Linked DNA regions of Homo sapiens. The protein of the gene in region 2 interacts with the protein of the main gene of each other region in a pairwise test. Each region holds a gene or a part of one and is shown on either strand. Other genes may lie near its edges.

Region 1 (7,668 bases), on a different chromosome or scaffold from region 2:
ACTCCAGAAAGAACAGTATAAAGAAATTCACAGAGGGCCCCAATCGACTGTGTCTCCTACCATACACCACAAATTGCCAGCTCTGGCTGCTTCTTTCCAGGAAAGATTTGGAATACCCACTCCAGCTGCCGTGCCTCTCAATTCCCATCCAAGCCTGGGAAGTCAGACTGAACTTTAGATAGATCACCAGGCAATTCTTGGTGTCCACGGCCCAGACTTTCTATAAAAGCATCCCTCAAACAGAGCAAACTCCAATTTCCTTCTCTCTCTACAAGGCAGACATAAAATTCCCAAGCCCGGAGGCATCCCCTTGGGCAGTTCTCCAGGTCTCTCCCCTGATAGAGCCGTGCTAAGACGCAGCCTCCAGCTTACAGGTAGAAGAAAGAAAGCCTGCATTGACTAAGTCCCTACTGTGTGCCTGGCTCTTTCTTATTCATTATCTGATTAAAGTCTCTTGGAGACCCTGTGAGATGGACATGATAAGCTCCATTTTCCAGATGTGGAAATACATCAGAGAAGTTTGCGCATTCCCACAGACAGAGCTAGTGAGGGACAGGTAACTATCAATTATTTGTGGGCTACTAGGCGTAAGCTCTTCTGTGTCCCTCCCATTCTCCCTTGTTTACTAGCACCAGCGTGCAAGGCAAGGCAAAGGTAAGTAACTACCATTTACTGAGCCCTGCGCTCCAGCATTCATACACTCTCACGTCACCAACAACTTAACTCCTTTGAGAGCAATATGCCCACTTTAGAACTGAGAAGAGGTATCCAGAGCAGTTAAGTAACTTGCCCAAGTTACACCGCCGGCAAGTGACAGAGCCAAGGTCCATCAGGGTTTGCCTGATCCCAGACTCAGTGAGTGTGGAGACTGCCTCTCCCTTCTGCTGTCCTCTGGCATCCGAGCCGAGTAGGGAGCGCAGAGGAAGCCCGTGCTGCAGACTGGGCAATTGCACTTACTCCCAGAGGGCAGCTGGGTCCCCCAGGGTGAGCGAGTGAAGCCGTGGGGAAGAGTCTATATTTTTCTAACAGGCCAGGAGGGCCTAGATTTCCCTACTTTCCGCTGAGCATCTTTTCTCCAGAACTACTTCCAGAATCCTCTAGATTGGAAATGTTGACCCCCAACATTCACCCTCTAGTGGAGCACTAATGGAGGGCAGACTCCCCTGTCCTCTGGGTTATCAGTTTGCGGGGAGGGGCCGTTGGGGAACCCTTAATGATCTCTCCAGCCTCTCTTCCCTTTCCCGGCGACCTTCTCTTGCGGGCTCCAGACCTCGGCTCTCTGGAGTCCTGGGGTGTCACCCGCTCTCAGCTCCGCCCGCTTCTCCGGTTTCCCTGGCCATAAAACCCTCGCCTCAAGCTCTAAAGCGTTTCCCTGATGTTCCGATTCAGGTGGAAAACTTTTTTTCAAGGTGTAAATTTTCTCTGCTGGGGTCGTGATTTATTCCGCTCTGAAGTCAGCGGAAATTTGACCCGTGTTTTCCGAAGTGAGAATAGGGGGCGGGGAAGCCCCTTCGACCCTTGTTTCTAAATCTCCACCTCGAAGACCTGGGCATTTCTGAAAGGCGTGACAATAGGGGGTGGGCCGGAGAGGGTAATTCGATGCAGAGAATTGAAAGGAAGTCTGCAGAACGGGGCCGTGGCTTAGAAACGCTATCATTAAGACAGAAAAAAAAAGTGACTGGGGTTTCTTAGCCCTGAAGGGCTGCAAATGAGCGCGCGACAAGAGTCGCGATTCCCTGCATTCGGCACTTCCCGAAGCTCCCGAAGTGACAAGGGCGAGCAATGGGACACCCTCGGCCCCTCCACCAAAACCCAAGTCTACCCTGGCTTTACCCGCACTACCCTTCTCCCGGGAGCTCCAGCTGTCTTCCCCCCGGCTACCAGGCACAAGCCCCGCGCTCCTCACTGTCCCTGGCAAACTTTCCCTGCGGGCCGACCCGCAGAGACCGCAAGTGGCGGGAAGCGGGACTGCAAATGAATAGAGGACCATGATCTGAAACGCGACCACCCACTCATCCCTTGATTCCCCCACCCGGCCGCGTCCCCCTGGCGCACAGACCCAGGAAGGCGCATAGACCTGCCTGGGTCTGTGCATCCTCCCGCGCACACATGCAGCCGCCGCCGTTAGGCGGGCGGGGATATGTCCCCGAGGGCCCCGCACTTACGCGCAGTGATGCCTGGGTGCTCCAGTTCGCGGCGGTCGTTGGTGCAGCCGCCCTGCTCCAGCCTGGCGTCGGCCGCGGCGCAACAGTAGCGGAGCGCGCAGGAGCCGCAGCAGATGGTAGCGTCCAGCGTGTCGAAGTCCTCTGGGCACTGGAAGCCCTCGTGGTAGTTGCCCTGCACGTCCACCCAGCCGTGGCAGTACTCTCCGGACTGCTGGGCGCCCGCCGGGCCCCAGCGCAGCCAGCCAAGGAGAAGGCAAAGCGCCAGCAGTGCCCTCATCGCCACTGGGCTCCCTGGGCGGCCGGGAGCAGGACGCAGCTGGAAAGCGAAGGGCTGAGCCCGGGCTCAGGGCGCACAGCGATTCCGCCTCCCCAGGGACACGTCGCAAGCTGCTGGCCCCGGCGGCCGAAGCCAGTCCTGCGTGGGATAGCAGGGGCCGGGGAGGCGACAGGGGCTGCACTACGAGTTCCGCAGGCCGGGAGTCAGCATGGTGCGCGGGGCGAGTTGGCGAGGGCCTGCGGGAGGCGCCGGCAGAGGCAGTTGCTGGGGCTGTCGCTGCCGCCCTTCGCCCGGCTCATAGCGCTCCCCGCGCGAGGGGCGCGCCAACCCCCCGGCCACCTCCCTCCCCACTCCTCAAGGGAGCCATAGCGCCCGGGGCTGCCAACTCCAGCGCCGCACAGAGTCCCAACCTGTGGCGATCGCCGGGTCCCGAGAGGAGCCGGAGGAAAAGAATTTGTTCCCCACGTGCGAGTACCCCAGACAGGCGGCCGCTCAGCCCCAGCCCCTATCTGTCACAGGAGCAGGAGTCAGCTCCGCCGCGGCCAAGTACAAACGGCCGCGGGGTTGCTGACAGCTCTGCCCGCAAGGCGTCTTTTAAAAAGGAAGAGGGAGGAGGAGACAATGAGGGTTAAGAAAGAGTCCGCCCTCCCGGATCGCGCCTCTGGAGCTAATCACAGCGGGTGCGGCGCGGGCCGAGGGTCCTCTGCGCTTTCTGGTTCGCGCTCCATCCTCCGCCTCCCCCCGGCCACCCCCGCCCATGCCGCTCCCCCAGGACTTGACTCTCAACCTGAAGATATCAGACCCTCCCCTCCCCCGCCGCACACCCCAACTCTCTCACAGCCCGGAAATCTCTGCAGAGTGACGTTGAGGGCTGCCGAATTCCCGCGTTTATCCACGCACGTGGGCGCGCGAGTGGAGACGCTGGATTTACTTTTCAATGGATATAATGCATGAATGCGGTGCAGTCATTGAAGTTTGTCGAATCATCTGTGCCCTGTTGCACAGACTCAGACTCGTTCCTGGGATACCGCTTCTAAAGGTTCAGGACCGAGAACATGGTTTTTAGGTGTCGCCAACATGTGCTGAGCTTTCCACCTACGTTTCCACTTTTTCTGGGAGGAACGGCACATTTTCACAAGCACACACACACACACACTCGCACTTTTTCCGCCGGCTGAAGGATTGCCGGTCACCTCTGCCAGCCAAGGCCAGCTCGCAAAACCTCAAAGAGCACGACTTCTCCGTTCACGCCCGCAAAGGAAATAAAGGAGCAAAATTAATGATAATTGAGCAGAACTGAACTTCTGTTCAGGGAAAGAAACACATTTATTTAAATGATGTGTCCCCTGTGGGCTATTTTCAGGGGCACTGCTCCGTTAGCGGCCTAAGTGCCTTATGAAACTGGTGTTATGTGAAACCTGGGCCAAACGCAAGCATTTATTTTGACTGCATCCTGAACTTCCAATCATCGTCTATTGGTATGTGTGAATATGTTCGGTGTATCTCGGCTTATTTGTCAAACAAGCTGCATACCCGTGTCCCTGAGTTAGATGTCGGCAAGTTGAGTGAAACAAAAGGAACAAAGTGTTCTCAGCTCCAGCGACACAAGGTGCGCGGTCAAACGCATTTATCACGTTCGCAGCTTCCTGATGAACCGAGTCGATTCCGGAGAAACTTTTTTAAAAATCTCCTATTAAAACGATTTCTTTTTTTTTTTTTTTTATCTAAGTTAAAGTATATTCCAATTAAATAATTACTTCTGATTTCTAATTTTAGGTATTGGGATTAGCATTTAGTTATGTGGCTGCTGAAAATACATGTCCATTTCACACGTTAAGTGGGACCGTGTAAATATTTAACTTTATTGCTCTCTTAGAGTTACATATTTCTTAGGACAATACGAAGCTATTAAGTAAAAACAAATTAAGTTGGAGCTTTCAATAACAAACAATGAAACAGTTTTTTAGTTAAATAGTTTAAGCATATGGGAAATTGTTTTGCAGAAATTTCTTAGATATTGGGTTTTTTATTTACAAAAAAAAGGTCTTGCCAGACTTAATCTTTTTTTTAACTCTAGTTGTTTTTTAGGAGTGTTGTTTCAATTGTATATATATCCTGAGCAATTACAGGAAAATGTCACTTAGAAACACAGCAAAAATGAGATATAGTGATTATAATCAGATGATAAAAATTATGACATGTTTACTGCTAATAACTTTCCCAGAACCACACCTTTTAATATTAGTTTTTGTTAAAATTTAGAGGAATTTCATTACGTCATAACTGCATAAAGTTCTGCTGCAGCAGCAACCTTTGCTGGTCCCCCAAGGGTCAAGTTTCTCTCATTATCCAGCTGTTCTTTGATAGCATTAATATTTTAAGGAGTGATTTGTTGGCACTTACCTCCCATTAATTACATTCTCCATGCCACAGTGGGATTCTTTTTCCTGGAGACACCAGCTATAATTAATTCCCTCATTCAAAGCTCCTGTCTACTTGACTTATTTAGAGGGCATTTTACCCAAATTTAGTTGGATGATGTTTACTAATGGAAAGTAACCAAACCTCCAAATTACTTGATCCTTCGTAGATCTGACTTGTGTGAACAGTAAACAACTGTGCACCATGCTTCAGATCTAGGTCCTCATCCTAAGCACCTTTAAAACCATTACAACAATCAGCTTCAGGAGTTTGCCTGGGCGAGGGGTTGGGGGGAGGCAGTGATATGTTTGGTTTCTTGTCATAGAAGATCTCTGCAAACTTTCCATTGTCAAATTTTAACTTCAAAACTGATGCCCTGAGAATCCTTTTCACCAACAGAAAGAGAATATTCACCTCTTTTTAGATATATAAACATCCAAAGTTTTTGTTATTCTGTTACTAGTTTAATAGTAAAGGAAGATGAAAAAGTTCTCATAGACACCCCTGAAAGACTCTAGGGGGAAGACATAGAGATAGAAAATAAAGTCCACAATATCTGGGGTATTATGAAGAGGTTTTGGAAATTCTTTATTGTTTCTTATCTCAGTAACACAAATTCCTTATTTTGGTCAAGAACATAATCATAAGAGATCATTTCCCCAGCCTACATACATTCTCTTGTGGCCCTGCCTCAAGGAAACTCTGTAGGAAGTGAGTTAATTGACATGATGTCTGGACTATGCTTTAATAAACACCAGCAAGAAAGAAAGAGAGGAGAGAAAGGCAGAAAGAAAGGGAAAGAAAAGAGGGAGGGTAGGAGGAAAAAGAAAAGATAGGTGAGCAATAGGGATGAGAAGATGGGCTAGGCAGAACTGAAACACAACTGGCAACATGTAGATAACTGTAGCTGGCTGAAGGGAACTTATAAAATCGAAATGCAACTCTTTTTTTCTTTTCTTTTCCTTTTGTTTGAGACGGAGTCTCACTCTGTTGCCCAGGCTGGAGTGCAATGGCATGATCTCGGCTCACTGCAACCCCCATTTCCTGGGTTCAAGCAATTCTCCTGCCTCAGCCTCCCAAGTAACTGGGACTACAGGCACCCACCACCATGCCCGGCTAATTTTTGTATTTTTAGTAGAGATGGGGTTTCACCATGTTGGCCAGGCTGGTCTCGAACTTCTGACCTCAGGTGATCCGCCCACCTCAGCTTCCCAAAGTGCTGGGATTACAGGCGTGAGCCACTGCGCCCAGCCGATGCATTTAATATTCTTAGGACATATTTGCTGACCATATTTTTAAACTTTGTTCTGGCCAGACATGGTGGCTCATGCCTATAATCCCAGCACTTTGGGAGGGCGAGGAGGGAGGATCCCTTGAGCTCAGGAGTTCAAGACCAGCCTGGGCAACATGGTGAGACCCTATCTCTACTAATAAAAATATAATTAGCTGGGCATGGCGGCACATGTCTGTAGGCCCAGCTACTGGGGTAGCTGAGGTGGCAGGATCACTTGAACCCAAGAGGTGGAAGCTGCAGTGTGCAGCGGTGGCACCACTGCGCTCCAGCTTGGGTGAACAGTGATGCCGTGTCTCAAAAAAAATAAAAAAGAAAAAAATTGTTCTGTTGACTTATCTTTTTTATATTCTTTGGAGCTGAGTGAATGATTTGAGAAAACCAAAAGCAGGGAGGTGAAGGGCCACATGGATCAGAAAGGTTTGGGAACTAAAATATACTGAGGAAAAAGGAGGAAGGCTAAAGGAATGCAGAAAACAAAAACAAAAACAAAAAAGGGCAGTTCACTGGACTATGGAAGAGTCTACTCCAGCTCATTTGCATTGGCCTCAGAAACAAAATGAAAAACAAGAGTTCCTCAACCCTCCCTCAAGTTTGCTTGTGCAATGACTTGTTTTCACTCTCCTTTAATTCAGAAAAAAACACTTTAATTTAATTTTCCTTTAATTACCTTGCCCATGACTTCATGGAATTCTCTTCCTTGGATCGCTTGTTGTAAATCTCTTACTCCAGGCCCCTCTCAATCTGAGTTACTCGAAAGGTGTTTTCTCTGAAATTTGCTGTGGCACATGTTTACCCTAGAGAATAGCAAGGTGCCTAGAAGGACACTCTCAGACCTGGGCAACCCAGCCCCAGGCCAGGCCCCTCTTCCTGCCCTGTGTTTCGGGCAGCCTCAGTCTCTTCATTTACCAAAAGAGGGGCTTAAGCTAGGGCCCTTAGAGAGTGTTTCTCAAAAGGCCATGAAATACCTGGGAATCTTGTTAAAATGCAGATCTGGCCGGGCACAGTGGCTCTCACGTCTGTAATCCCAGCACTTTGGGAGGCCGAAGCGGGCGGATCGCCTGAGGTCAAGAGTTTGAGACCAGCCTGGCCAACATGGTGAAACCTCATCTCTACTAAAAATACAAAAATTGACCGGGCGTGGTGGCGTGCACCTGTAACCCCAGCTACTCAGGAGGCTGAGGAAGGAGAATTGCTTGAACCCGGGAGGCAGAAGTTGCAATGAGCTGAGATCACGCCACTGCACTCCAGCTTGGGTGACAGAGCAAGAGTCCATCTCAAAAAAAAAAAAAAAGCAGACCTGACTCTCACAAAGTCTGCAGTGGGGCCTGTGATTCTGCATTTCTAATGAGTTTCCAGGTGATGCCAAGTGGCTGCATTGAGGACCATACTCTGAGGCCCTCTGGCCTTCCTCTGCCCTGTCTGCAGCCACAGGGGAAAGAGTGAATAGAGCCAGAGGGCAGTGCCCACCCAAAGCCCATTCCCTCCCTTTTTGTACCACTCTCTGGGTCCTG
Region 2 (7,089 bases):
TGCATATCACAGTTACTCAAGCCAATGAATTATTTTGTTTTGCTTTTTATTAGTTTGTTTGTTTGTTTTTGAGACAAGGTCTCACTCTGTTGCCCAGGCTGGAGTGTAGTGGCACGATTATGGCTCACTGTAACATTGAACTCTTGGGCTCAAGTGATCTTCCCCCCGCTCAGCTTCTTAAGTTGCTTGGACTACACATCTGGCCAATTTTTTCATTTTTTGTAGAGATGGGGGTCTCACTATGCTGCCCAGGCTGGTCACAAAATCCTGGCCTCAAATGATCCTCCTGCCTCGGCCTTCCAAAATATTGGGATTATAGGCATGAGCCACCGTGCCAAGCCTATTTTGTTTTTTGTTTTGTTTTGTTTTTAAAGACAGGGTCTTGCTATGTTGCCCAGGCTGGCCTGGAACTTCAGGGCTCAAGAAATCTTCCTACCCCAGTCTCCTGAGTAGCTGGGACTACAGGCATGCACCACTGCTCCCAGCTTGAATGAACTCTTCTTTTTGCTTGATTTTAGTTTGTCTCATCAAAAGCACTGTGACTAATACAGAGTCAACTCTAATTTTATTACTTTTTTCATTATATCTGATCAGATATAACATCATAAACACACTGGTGAAGAAGAGTTATAGTCAGAGTACCACTCGAATTGAAGCTTTAAACTGTCAATAAGCCACCTGCAATCCCTCGGTGTAGAGAAAAGGAGAACTTGGACATCTTGATTTCTCACCAGGTATTCAGAGGTCACCTACCTGGTTGGTTCCCTCTTAGAGTGTGACATCTTTAAAGTGGGCTATGAAGCCCTTTGCCTAAGACCTTGCTTTCCCAAGGGGCAGCTATTCACATCTAGCAGACAACACACTAGTGTAGACATCTCAGTGCACTTGGCAAGCCTCTGAAGCCTCTTCTTGTAAGTCAGGCCAGCAATGGCCCTTGCACTGGCAAGCATCTTGCTCAAGCTCTTAAGTGATCATAATAAAGTGATTAACACAGAGTGCCCAGCACAGTGATTACTTCTGATTAGAGGTGGGTGGTGCATTAGTCAACACCAGGCAGAAAAGCCCAGCAATGTTTCTGAGCAGACTCAGGAAGAGATAGTTGTTCTCAAACTTGAGTATGCATCAGAATCACAGAATGATGGTGAAGGGGGGTGGGGAGTGAGGGTGGGGTTGGGAAGACTTGTTAAGACACACACTGCTGAGCCCTACCCCTAGAGTTTCTGATTCAGCAGGTCAGAGTGGGCCCCTAGAATCTGCATTTCTCACAAGTTCGCAGGTACTGCTGGTTGGGGGGCTATACACTGAAAATCACTGTTAGAAGACTGCTGAATTGGACAAAGGCCCCTCAAAGGAGAAATGATCCAGCACTTGGTTTTTCTGCTTCCCTGAAACCCTCATCTCAACAAAGATGCCCTGTTATCTCCACTGTGGGTCCTGAAGCCTTAGACAAGTACAGAAGTGAAATGTACATCTACATAAAAAAATGATACACAGTACTAACTTCATGCCTGTGGGTATAGAGCCAGAAATGTCACAGCACACCTGCATATCTATCACATTGTCACAGCAGCCCCTAGATGCAATTATTCCTGAATTACAGAGAAACAAATGGAGGTACCAGGCAGCTGTGACTGTTGTCTACAGAGAAGACACACGTGGAAGGCAATTTTTCTTGGTCATGAAAATTGTCAAATGTACATAAAGGTGAAATAAATAGTGTAATAAATCCCCAAATGTTTCAACTGCAGTGGACTCTGGCAATGACAGTGGTTCTCAAATTTGAGTGTGCATCAGAATCACCTAAGAGACTTGCCAAAACAGATATTGCATGGGTATCATCCACCAACAAGAATTATTAGGACTTTGCCACATCGAAAACTCTTCTGATGACAAGACAGCACTGGCAGGGAATAAACTCACAAAGATAGTTTTATGTTTCACTTTGCTTTGTTTTGTTCTTGAGGCAGGGTCTTGCTCTGTCACCCAGCCTGGAGTACAGTGTTGTAATCATGACTCACTGCAGCTTCAACCTCCCGGGCTCAAGCAATCCTCCCACCTCAGCCTCCTGAGTAGCTGGGACTACAGGCATGTGCCACCATGCCCAGTTAATTTTTGTATTTTTTTGTAGAGATGGGGTTTCTCCATGTTGCCCTTGCTGGTGTCAAACTTGGGCTTGTGAGCTTGATTTTGGGATTACAGACATGAGCCACCGTGCCCAGCCAGATTTTTTGATGTTATCTCCAAATGAATAAATGTAAGTATGGCCACAGGGACACTGCTCAAAAGGAACATGATAACATACCTCGTTTTGGTAGTCCCGTTTGGGCCTGTCTTCATTTTTATGTTTTTTTCCTTTTCTTTTTCTTTTTCTTTTTTTAAGAGACAGTGTCTCACTCTGTCACCCAGACAAGAGTGCGGTGGCAAGATCATAGCTCACTGCAATCTCGGACTCCTGGCCTCCAGGGATCTTCATGCCTTGACTTCCCAAAGTGCTGGGATTATAGGTGTGAGCCACCACGCCTGGCCTCTTCATTTTTAAAACAACCCAAAAGGGATACAGAATAGAATGTCACTTGGATAGCTGTTTGACAGCTTTTTCTTTTTCTTGTCTTTTTTTTTTTTTTTAATTGAGACAAGGTCTTGCTCTGTGGCCCAGGCTGGAGTGCAATGCCACTGTCATGGCTCACTGCAGCCTCAACCTCCTGGGCTCCAAGGCTCCTCCAGACTCAGCCTCCTGAACAGGCATGTGCCACTGCACCCAGCTAATTTATTTATTTATTTATTTTTATTTTTATTTTTATTTTGAGACAGAGTCTCGCTCTGTCGCCCAGGCTCGAATGCAGTGGCGCAAGCTCTGCTCACTGCAAGCTCCGCCTCCCGGGTTCACGCCATTCTCAGCATCCCGAGTAGCTGTGACTGCAGGCGCCCGCCACCACGCCCAGCTAATTTTTTGTATTTTTAGTAGAGACGGGGTTTCACCGTGTTAGCCAGAATGGTCTCGATCTCCTGACCTCGTGATCCGCCCGCCTCGGCCTCCCAAAGTGCTGGAATTACAGGCGTGAGCCACCGCGCCCGGCCCAGCTAATTTATTTTTATTTTTTGTTTTTTGTAGAAATGAGGTCTGGCCATGTTCCCCAGGCTGACAGCTTCTAACAGAAGCAAACATATGCTCCCCTTGTAACCAGTGCGTTCACTTGCAGATATTTGTCCCAGAGAAATGAGAGTTTGTATCCACCAAAAAAACGTGTACCATAATAGTGACTATAGCCAGAAAAGAGATGAGGGAGGGGGGAAAGGCCGGAAGGAGGGAAGGAGGCAGGCAAGCAGGTAGGAAGGAAGCAAGCTTGGTGTCCATCAACTGGGTAAACGTTTAAAAAATACGGTATCTTTGCACAGTGGAGTACTACTCAGCAATAAAAAGGAAGGAACTGATATGAACTACTTATATTCCCAACAGGATGGATCTTCTAATTTGTTATGTTGAAGGAGAATATTCTGTATTACTTCAAGTTTATGAAGTCCAAGAACAGGCAAAATGAACCTACAGTGACAGAAAGCAGAATACACTGTAGTGGTTGCCTGAGGCTGGATAAGGATGGGGCCAGGGAAGGAAGGTAGGTCAGGAAGGCCCACCACGGAACTTTCTGGGGTGATGGGCACGTTCTATTTGTTGATCTGGGCGACGGTTACACAGGTGTACACATATATAAAAATTAGTGGAGCTGAACACGTAAGGTCTGGGCATCACACTTTATGTAAGTTAAACTTCAGTAAAGTGCTCTCAGCACACATCCGCAGCCGCACCCACACAAAATCCCAGGAGGCTCAGTACCAGCTGTGGTCCGGGCCTTGCCCACCTCGGAGAGGCCACGACCCAAGGCATCCGGTTTCCTCTCGCTCCAGTCTAACTTCCGCGCATCTACGAGGGCCGGGACTGCCGCTACCTTTCTGGAAGGCGCCGGCCGGCCAGTCACCGGAGGGATCCCGCCAGAGGCGGCTCCGCGTCTCCAGCAGCGGGGCAGGGACCCGGGCGCCCCGCCCTCGCCAGCGCCCGCCCCCGCCCGCCCCCGGCCCGCCCTCTGTATCTGGCCCCTGGGCAGCTGCCCGGGGAGGCGGCCAGCGAGCTGGGGCCGCGCAATGTCGCACGGAGCCGGGCTCGTCCGCACCACGTGCAGCAGCGGCAGCGCGCTCGGACCCGGGGCCGGCGCGGCCCAGCCCAGCGCGAGCCCCTTGGAGGGGCTGCTGGACCTCAGCTACCCCCGCACCCACGCGGCCCTGCTGAAAGTGGCGCAAATGGTAAGTGAGCGCGGGGCGCGAGGCCGAGGTTCTACAGGGCGTCCCGGGAAAGCAGGGGTCCGGGAGCGGACGCGCCGGGCGTCTGGACCCGGCCGGAGCCCAGGGAGCATCGCGCAGCGGGCGGGGCACCGCGTCGCTAAAGTTCGCGGCAGGCTTCCTCCGGGAAAGTTGCTGCCGCAGCCCCCGCGCTGGAGCTCAGTCCCCAGAGCCGCCCCGGCCCTTGCTCCCGCGGACCCAGGTCGCCAGGGTCGCAAGTTTCTCCGGCCACCCCCCTGCGAAGCCTGACCCGCCTACTGACTGAAACCACGGGCAAAGTTCCTTTTCGTCTTTCTTCCTCTTCTCTGGGCCGCGCCGCTTCGAACCCGAGCCGGGGGTGGAAGAGTCGCCCAGGCGGCGGCGCTGAGGGAGCGAAACCCGACCTCTTCCCCGTCCACGGCCTCCTCTTTCCTCCGAACCCAGCGCGGCAGGGCTTCCCTGCTCTGTGTGCAGTTTCGCTCGAAGGAGGAGGTCAGAGGGTCTTGTGTTCCATAGTGGGGAAAAAGAACTGGGACCGTTGAGACGGCCGTCCTGGTCCCCTGCGCCCTCAAGTTCCGAGGGAGGGCCCGGGTCTCAGGGGGCTCTGGAGGGCAGGGGGTCAGTTGGGAAAGGCCTGTTGTCAGGGGCTGGTACTCATGTAGGGGAGCCAGACTGTTGAATGGGAGTCACCCGTGGAGCCAGGCAGGATGAGTGTCTGGGCTTGGATTGTGACCAACTCAGCACAAGGGCCTCCTACCAGGGCAGACGTTGCCTGGCCGATTCTCTTGTTCCCCACTCTTTTCTTTTCTCCCCTCCCGTTTTTTTCTTCTTTAAAAGTTTGTAATCTGAAACAACTTTTCCGTTTGTATGATGTGTTTTGAAACTGGGTTGGGCTGTTTGTGAGTCTCCACCATTGTAATGTTTGCACCAAGAACGGTGGGGAGGGGAGCGGTAAGTTTCAAAAAGAGGTGTGGGGAAAGGAGTGTGGGGCTGGACAAGGTCACACACCCAGAAGCTGGGGCCTGCTAAGGTGGCCTGGCCCCAGGGGGTTGGGCACAGGACGTCTGTGCATCTATAGCACTGCCATTCCAGACACTGAGTGTGCATGAGGTGGCCCTCATGTCTTGCTTGGGCCAGACCTAAAGAGAAGGGGCGCTGAGTTCCTGCCTCCCTAAGAACGGTGTCTAGATAGACCAAAAACTAGGAAGAGCCATTTCAGCAACGTACAAAAAAATCTGGTGCTGAGCATTGTTGGGTTTGAGCAGGGCATTTTTTGGCCCAGGCTAAGAGATTTGATCAGCCAAATAGAAGAGACCAGCCCATCTCACCATCCTTAAAAGATGGGCTGGGGTGAGACATATCCTACCTGAGCATTGGAAGGGATGAGTTTGGTAGACAGAGAATGGGATCAGAAGCCTCCATCTTGGCCCCTGAGTTTGCTGGACAAAGATATTGTGGGATGAAAAGTCTTCTTGTTGGTCTATGAGTTTGGTACACAAACATAATGGAGATGAAACCTCGGCAACATAGCGAGACCCCATCTCTACAAAAAAAATTTTAAAACCTTGTGTGGTTGGCATGGGCCTCTAGTCCCAGTTACTTGGGAGGCTGAGGTGAGAGGATTGATTGAACTGAGAAGGTCAGTGAACTGTGCCACTGCACTAGTCTGCGTGACGGAGGGAGGCCTGTCTCAAAAAAAAAAAAAAAAAAAGGTACAAAGAAAAGGTAATGGAGATGAGAAGCCTTCATGTGGTCCATGATTTTGATGAATAAAGATACTGGGAGATGAGAAATCTCCATCTCATCTTAAGCTCCTCAGCTAGCCTCTGGCCTGTGGTCCTTGGGCCAATTTGCAAGTGGCAAGAGTGGGGCCTGTTGTTCCAAAAAAGAGAACAAAGACTTGAATAATTTCTTTATCTGGTTGCTTATTCTCTATGTGCTCCTCTTAAAACCATGCTGAGGAGTCTTACACCTGCCCTGGAGGATTCCCCATCACTGCTGCAGGCTTGTTTGATCAGACCCTCTGGGAGCAAAGTTGCCCTTGCAGGATGGCTGTATTAGTCCTAGTTAGGGCTATCTACTTGGGCCTCTTATCTAACTCCTCCCTATTTTCCCACTTCTCCTCTTTTCTAAGACTCTGCTTGGGCATTTGAGGTTCATTTGTCTTCTTTGCTGGAAAATGCTTGTTTAGCCAAGTTTTAACATTGGGGAAGGGCAGAAGCAGCTAAATTAATGCCACCCATTGGGGCTTTCTTTCTATGGGTCTCTCATTTTGACCATCAGTTTCTCAGTTTCATACTGAACAGGTTGACCCTTTTGTCCTCAGCTTCTCATGAAATGTTTTCATCATGATCTGATCAATAGATCTGCCAACACGTTGTCTTAAGAAATCATTGCAAAGGCTGTTCCACTGGAGAATGACTTCCCTTGTCTTGGCCTCTTCTGGGTCCACCATTACTAGAAAATGAGTTTCTGAGTGAATGTGTGTACTTGACATGTCATTTATACATGTGTAATTTTTATAATCCTCTGGCCATGATAATTCAGTTTCTTTGGTCTTCCTTTTTGGAGTAGAGACACAGTCACAGGTTTTGACTTTTGACTTTAAAGCACTCTTTTTTTTCTTTCTTTCTTGAGAGGGAGTCTTGCTCTGTCACCAGGCTGGAGTGCAGTGGAACGATCTCAGCTCACTGCAACCTCTGCCTCCCGAGTTCAATCAAATCTCCTGTCTCAGCCTCACGAGTAGCTGGGACTACAGGCACGTGCCACCACACCCAG
Region 3 (7,382 bases), on a different chromosome or scaffold from region 2:
TTTGTTCCACTGATCAATTTGTTTATTCTTTTGCCAGTACCATACTGCCTTGATCACTTTGGTTTTATATTAAGTCTTAAAGTCAGGTAATATCAGTCATCTGAGTTTGTTTTTCTTCAGTATTGTGTTAGCTACTCTGGGTTTTTGCCTTTCCATATAAACTTTAAAAAAAGTTTGCTGATATCCACAAAGTAACTAGCTCAGGTTTTGACTTGGGTTGCACTTAACCTATAGATCAATTTGGGAAGACCTGAAATCTTAACAGTATTGAGTCTTCCTATCCATGAACATGGAATAGCTCTCCATTTATTTAGTTCTTTGATTTCTTTCACCAGAGTCTTGTAGTTTTCCTCATAAAGATCTTGTGCATATTTTGTTAGATTTATACCTAAATATTTCTTTTTAAGTTATCAATTTTAATGGCTGTAAAAGTGCTTAAAATGAAAAAATTCAAGATGCAATATTTACAACCATCAATCTTTTGTGGGCAGGCCACCTGTTATCTATTTGTGGCTTACCAAAGTGTTATAACCCATTGGTTAGGCATATTTTTTGGTAAAGAATATCAGTTACTATCACTGAGCGTGAGACACTAATTAATCTCACCCATTGCCACTTCTTTAGTAAGAACTGGACTTGCAGCCACTGCTATGGCTGACATTCTAATGCCTCAAGTGGAGCCACCTTTCCTGTACTCAAATGTCCTCTGTTTGTTGCCTGTCATCCCAGCTACTTGGGAGGCTCAAGCAGGAGGATTGACTGGGGCCAGAAGTTCGAGACCAGCCTGAGCAACATAGTGGGACCCAATCGGTAAAAAATAATAATAATAATAAAAAATAAAAAAATGTTTCTGGTTGTCTTTGGGGGACAGGTTCAGATTTGGGAATATTTGTAGGGGGATTTTAGCCTGGCCTTTGTTCACCTGGTGTAGAAATCTTGTTTGTCCTATAGATCAAATTGAGTCCTAGTTGGATGCTTGGCCACCAGCAAAATCCCTATGAGTCACACCATTCTGAAGTCTACTTGGGTACCACTGCTTATGATTGTACCAAGCCCTCCCTGGCACTGAGGGTTAAGTCATGCACCACTATTTGTCTTCTGCCAGCCCAGGCTCTCATCCTTCCCATTTAAGTCAGGGAGCTCCTTTTGACTGCAGTGTCTTTCACAACCATCTCTTGCTACAAAGAACAGCCACTTTGGTGCTTTTCAAAGATGGCAGTCCTTCCTTTGCCAATGATTCTTTGAAAATCTTGGTGGATGCCCCCTCAGGGGACACAGTTAAAGAGAGGTAAGCTGGCCACATGTGGAAATACACTGCAATATTTCCATCTCCTTGATTCTTTGGATCTTTTCCTGTACATGTACCAGGGAATTTCCTTTTTCTCATCTTCATTTAGCTGAGTCCAGAAGTCAGTTAGTCAATTTAGATAGTACATTGAAACCAGAGTCATTGGGAAGTGAATTCAAATGGACAGATTCAGGTTTATTCACACATATACTCTTCAATGTAAATTAGCAGAATCTTGCAATTCTTTCTCTTCTTGGGGTTGACTTTATAGTTGGTCTCCTAGGGTGTGACTGAATCTGGTTCAAGTATTAAGAGTGAGAGTAGTCAGAGATGGTGGGAGAGGGGTGGGAGGAGATCGGCTTCCCTTTCCAAGGTAACTGCCTTAAGTGAGTTCCGAAGAGGATCTTCAAACAAAGCAGGAACAGCCTCGTTACATAAGGAAGAGGGCATGCTTCTGCTGCCAAGGGAGTTTGGGGGCTTGAGTGACTAGGAATCATTCAAGTTTTCTTTTATAGTCCTATTCTTATTCCCAGATTCCCACTCTTTCCTGCTGATAATTATAAAATCTTGTGAGGCCGATAATTCAATTGACTTTGTAATTTGGCGATTTGTAGATGAAATTGTGAATTTGGTTTTTCAGTTTTGGCCTTGTGGCTCAATTAACAAGATATTCTTTGAGCTCTGTTGTTTGTAAAAATACAGTTGTTTAAAAGTCATAAGCTGATAATTTAGGACTTAGTGCATCACTACTTTTCTTTCAGTGGTCCAGTTTTAAACTCATCCCTTGAGTTCATTCTTTGAGTTCTTCCTAATCTTCATATTATTATTATTATTGTTGACAATGGCCAGTTGGTTTCCCAGAGCCTTGTCTTCATTGGGTAGTTCAATCCAGGTGACCATACTTGGTAATTTACCTAGCTGTCATGCCAAGTGCTTCCAGAGCCTGTATTTTCATACTAGTTGAATCTCAGCCTTTATTCCTAATCAGGCCAGACAACCAATCTCAGATTCTTCTCATTTCTTCAAAATTCTGTTTCTTACAGTCCCACATTGGGTTATCTTTATTCTGTCTTTTTCACTACTGTCCTTGTTGGTCTTATTTTGCTTCCTTGGAATTTGGGGTAACAATTTTTGGGTATTGATATGACTCTTTTGGAGCCTAACGGTCACTATAATAGGATGGACAAGTGTGTGTGTGGTCTTAAAAGAAAAGCATGGACTGTTTGGCTGGTGACTTTTCTTTGATCTCTGGGCTGTCTGCTCTTTTGGCTAGCAGAGATGATCCAGTTTTCAACTTGGGGCAGGTCCCATCCCTGCCACCTCATATGTGCATATGGGGATTTACAGATTACAGCTGTAAGATGTCCTCCACTGACCCGGTGTCATACCAGCTTCCCAGCCACCTGTGGGATGAACAGGTGTTCTCTCCTTTGAAATGAGAAAAGAAATGGAGAGACTTTTCAAAGATCCCCAGGATTAGCCAGTAGCTGGGCCAAGAATGAAATCCACATCTTCCCATACCCTCAATACTGACCTCTCCATCAGGATCTGCCCTAACATTTGAAGGGCCCAGCTCAAGAGCCTACATGAATGCCCCATACTATCATCTAAATATTCATAAGCAATAGTCAGCTATTGAGTGCTACATAAAACATTCTCTATCCTCCTATCTTGACAAATTGTTGCAATTTGGAATTTCCAGGAGCAGATACTGAGACTGAGTTTGTCCTGTGTGGTATTTATTAGTGATCAACAGGGAGAGGAGGCAGGAGCAGGCAGAGAGAGAAGTCCAAATGCAATGCGGACTCCCCCAAACCTTAGCCAACCCCACTAGGTGTCCTAGAGAATATATGGCCCACCAGACTGTCCAGGGCAGGTAAAATTTGTGTGCCACTCTTCCTCGACCCCCAGGACAGGGCATATCTTTGGATGAGGGGACTCTATGCAGGCACAAACCTTGAAAAAGCTGACAGCTGGTCAACACCTCCTCTTCTAACAAATGTTCCTTCCTAATGACCTGTTCTGCTCCGGCAAGAGCAACAGGGTGAGAGGACTTCCATCTCTCCCAGCTCCTGGACATTCTAGTGCTCACATTCAAGCTCCATACCCCTGACTCAACAGCTGCTCCTGGCCACTCTCGGGCCTACGGTACCTGACACAGTGGCTCTAGCCACCTTGGGGACAACAGAGAGGCAGGATACCTCCTACCTTCAACACCCTGGAGGCGCGTGGGGAATTCCAGAGTCCTCAATACCCAGAGATTGGACTAAAACGGGATGGGGCACATCCGCTTTGCCATTAGACCTCTTAATTCCTGAGCAACCGGGAACTGGAGGAGGTCTGTAAAGCAGGGGAGTAGGATAGGAACCTATCCCTCTTGCTCGGGTCAAAGGTATGCTATCAAAGATCACACTAAGATGTTGGGAGATTTAAAGGAGGATTTGCACATGGAAGGCTCTTTTTTGGAGAAAGAGACTGAGTCCTAGCTAGCATTAAATAAAACAATGGCTTAAACAATCTCCATGAGTACCAGAGATTTTTACTATTAGCGATATTCCTGGTGTAGCCGTGTCAGGGCTGTCACTCTCTCTGTCACTCGCCCTGGGCCCAGCAATCCTTTCCCGAGGCGGAATCCCCCTGGCGGTGTGGGTCAGGATCGCTCTCCGTCCCCTACCCGCGCCAGGTCCCTGGAGCTGAGCAGAGCAGGGCGCTGTCGAGCGCGTTGGGGAGCCGGGGCCGGGACGAGCACAACCGGGAGCCCGAGCGACAGCGGCCAGGGGAGGGAGGAGGCGGTGAGGCTGAGGAAGGCAGTCGGGCCCAGCTTGACGCAGCGGCGGCTGCGACTGAGCAGGCCACCACCAGGGCACCCGGGCCAGCCGCGCCAGCCATCCCTCCGCCTCCTCCTTCAGCTGCTCGGCGCGCGTGGGAGTGAGTGCGTCGCGAGCCCGCCGGGGGTCTCAGGCTCTGGGCGTCCTCGGCGAGCGAGCCCGGGCAGAGGGAGGCGCACGAGCGCGCGCGACAGAAGGAGGCGGGGAAAGGAGGGGGCGAGGCGGAGGCGAGCGAACAGAGGGAGGGACCCGCCCGCCGCGCCCCGGCCGCTGGGCATGTGTGTCCGCAGGCGCCCGACGCTGCCGATGTCCCGGGGCTGAGCCGCGCCCAGGTGTCCCGGACAGTGCGTGCGAGCGTGTGTGTCCGCGCAGGCGAGCACCGCGCCGGCCCTGAGCCTCCCGCTCGCTCCCCACGGCCGCGGTGCATGTTCGCCTCCTGCCACTGTGTGCCGAGAGGCAGGAGGACCATGAAAATGATCCACTTTCGGAGCTCCAGCGTCAAATCGCTCAGCCAGGAGATGAGATGCACCATCCGGCTGCTGGACGACTCGGAGATCTCCTGCCACATCCAGGTGCGCGTGGAACCGGGCGAGGGCGCGGGGCACACGCCGGGAGCAGGGCGGGGGGCCTTTGCGGTGGGCATGCGAGAACAAGGAACCCACTCCCGGAGGGGATTGGGGGACTGCTAGAAAGCCAGATTTCGATTCCTCAGGCCTCTGAGGGTGGGGGGCCTTATCCTGGCATGGAGGGGCATGGTGCCCTGCAAGCGCCAGGCACGCGTTATCCGCGCCCAGTCTCCTTCCCCTCGCGTGCACCCTGCGCGCGCGTCTCACTGCGCCCGGGCTAGGGGCGCGGGGCAGCTGCCTCCGGAGGGACTCTGGCCCCTCTGGGCCCTACTCCGCCAGGAGATGGGAGCTCCGAGGGCTGAGAGGGGCACCTGCATGTCGCCCACTGGTATTTCCTCCCTTCTTCCACGTGGAGAAGGCATGCATCAGCTGGGTTCACTCATTTCTGTCTCCCGCGCCCAGGCTCCGGAGACGCCCTCAGTCCCGGAACCTGCTTTCCGCTCCGTGTCGGTCCCCCTCACCCTCCGCCGGTGGTCTTTAGTTCTCCGCGTGGGGCGGTGGCGAAGTTTCCCCAGAGTGAGAGAGGCCGGGCTGCCCTGGGCGCCAGCCTTGAGGGATGGAGCGCGCGCTGCGCCGGACTGGAGCTACCTCGAAAGGAATGTGTGAAGTCTGAGTGTTTCGGAGAAAGGAAAAGGGATTGTGAGGCCAGCAAGTGGGGAGCCCTGCAGGAACCTGGGTCCTGGGTAAAAGAGCCCCGTGGAATCTTGGTGGACATTCACTGTCGCCCAAGTTGGAGGAGAAGGCGAGTTGTTTGGGAGAAGGCAGCTTTGCTGGCAGCCCTGTCCTCGGGTAGTAAGTGCCTCTGGGCTGTCAGGAGAGCTAGTGTGAGGTGCAAAGGTGTGTGTGTGCATGTGGTTGCGCGTGCGTGTGCATATTTGCTGTGGGTGAATATGTAGGCAGGTGGGAGCCCCTCTTCCAGGACCCCAAAGATGCCCCACTCGGTGCGCACACAATCAGGAAAGGTTGTGTCAGGGCTCAGCACAATTAACTTCTGACTTCTAAATCTATTTAACTGTTTATCTCTGGGATTTCCTTTCTCACCTACCCTAGTCGAGTCTTGAGGCTCTGGGACTGAGCTTTTTTTTTTTTTTTTTTTTTTTAGTGTAATACAGGGCACACCACCCATGTCAGTGGGAGGTGAGTGGGGCAGCATCTCCCAGAGTAGGAATCAGCCTCTAGGCTGTGCAAACCATGAAGGAATGAAAGGACTTTCCCTGTTTTATTTTTATTTAATTTTTGTTAGTGGGAGTGTGTGACATGTTGGGGGCAGTTGCAATTAATTTGTAACCTGACAGCCGGACAAGTGTCAAGGTAGGAATGTGATGCCCCATGATCTCCCAGGAAAGTAGGCTCCCATTGAATTTTCTGGGGGAGCTTGAATTTCATTCTGAGCTAAGCAGCACTGCTAAACTTAATAATAAAAGGATTAGCAGGATAGGCAGTGTTTCTACTGCCACAAGGGTTGCACAGAAGCATCTGGCATGTACTAATAGTCTTGTGATCCAGAGAGTGTGGACTGTGCACTTTGCTTTAAGTCCTAAAGTGGGTGTACAGGTCCTTTAACCCATAATGAATGTGTAGATGATGGAGGGGCCGTCAGGGAGAGAGGCTGTTGAGTTCTCCTCTGTCTCTCAGCCCTCTTCTGCCCTGTACCACTTGGTGTTGACATTTTTTTCCCCTCCCTCAGGATGAAGTCTTCCTTAGAATAATAAATATTCCCCAAAGGACATGTATTTGTTGTCTTGTGTTTTGAGAAACAATAAATTGTAGCCAGTCTAACAACAGTTTGAAAAACTCCAGTGCTTATGACCCAACTAGTGCCAAAGAGGTTAAAATGTTATGTTTCAAAATGTTGGCTTGGGCACTGATTTTTAAAAAATTATGATGTTTCATTTTGTGATTTGTCTTTTTCTGCCCTTTCTGCCCCCAAATTACAATTATTATTTAACCAATTAAAATAAATTAAAATATTTTATTTGGATAACTTTAGACCTCACACTTTCCTAGAGTACTCCAGACCAGGAATTGAAATTGCCCTTCCGGGTATCAGGTAACAAAGACTTCCCATTTGCTTAGAGTGAGAACAAAAGGATTAAAAAACAATGCGAAACAAAACCATTTGGAATTACTGGCACTTGTTCTGGGTGAATCCATCTGTGTTTGCTTCCTTCCTTCTATAGAACTACAAAGTTAAAGGATTGTATATATTGTCACAGAATGTCACCCTCTCTCCATAGCCCACATCTGCCTGTCTGCGTTAGGAGCTCTCATCCCTGGTGTCTGCCTGGCTCTGGAGCAGGGGTGTCCAATTTTCTGGCTTCCCTGGGCCACATTGGAAGAAGAAGAATTGTCTTGGGCCACACATAAAATACACTAACGCTAACGATAGCTGATGAGCTAAAAAAAAAAAAATCACAAAAAGTCTCATAATGTTTTAAGAAAGTTTATGAATTTCTGTTGGGCTGCATCCAAAGCTGTCCTGGGCCATGGGTTGGATGAGCTTGATCTAGAGGCTCTGTAGGAGGAGCAGGAGCTCTTGGACATGTGTTAGTTGTTCACTCCTGTTCACTACAGGAGTGCTGCCTATGGAGCCCCAAAATAAGTAGGGGAAACTCAAGCCACACATCCTTGGGAGCTCAT

Evidence for each region. Proteins that work in one complex are often made in the same cells at the same time.
Region 1: the proteins of CMTM7 (region 2) and SHISA3 interact in binary tests that used the Homo sapiens proteins (3 or more experiments, as listed by UniProt).
Region 3: the proteins of CMTM7 (region 2) and FRMD3 interact in binary tests that used the Homo sapiens proteins (3 or more experiments, as listed by UniProt).

Annotation. Positions count from the first base shown.
Region 1 is NC_000004.12:42,392,831-42,400,498, reverse strand, and holds the start of SHISA3 (protein shisa-3 homolog precursor), read right to left. Parts: upstream 3,012-7,668; 5' UTR 2,443-3,011; coding exon 2,166-2,442; intron 1-2,165. UniProt on the Homo sapiens protein: Plays an essential role in the maturation of presomitic mesoderm cells by individual attenuation of both FGF and WNT signaling.
Region 2 is NC_000003.12:32,387,770-32,394,858, forward strand, and holds the start of CMTM7 (CKLF-like MARVEL transmembrane domain-containing protein 7), read left to right. Parts: upstream 1-4,083; 5' UTR 4,084-4,137; coding exon 4,138-4,296; intron 4,297-7,089.
Region 3 is NC_000009.12:83,535,391-83,542,772, reverse strand, and holds the start of FRMD3 (FERM domain-containing protein 3), read left to right. Parts: upstream 1-4,371; 5' UTR 4,372-4,541; coding exon 4,542-4,688; intron 4,689-7,382. UniProt on the Homo sapiens protein: Putative tumor suppressor gene that may be implicated in the origin and progression of lung cancer.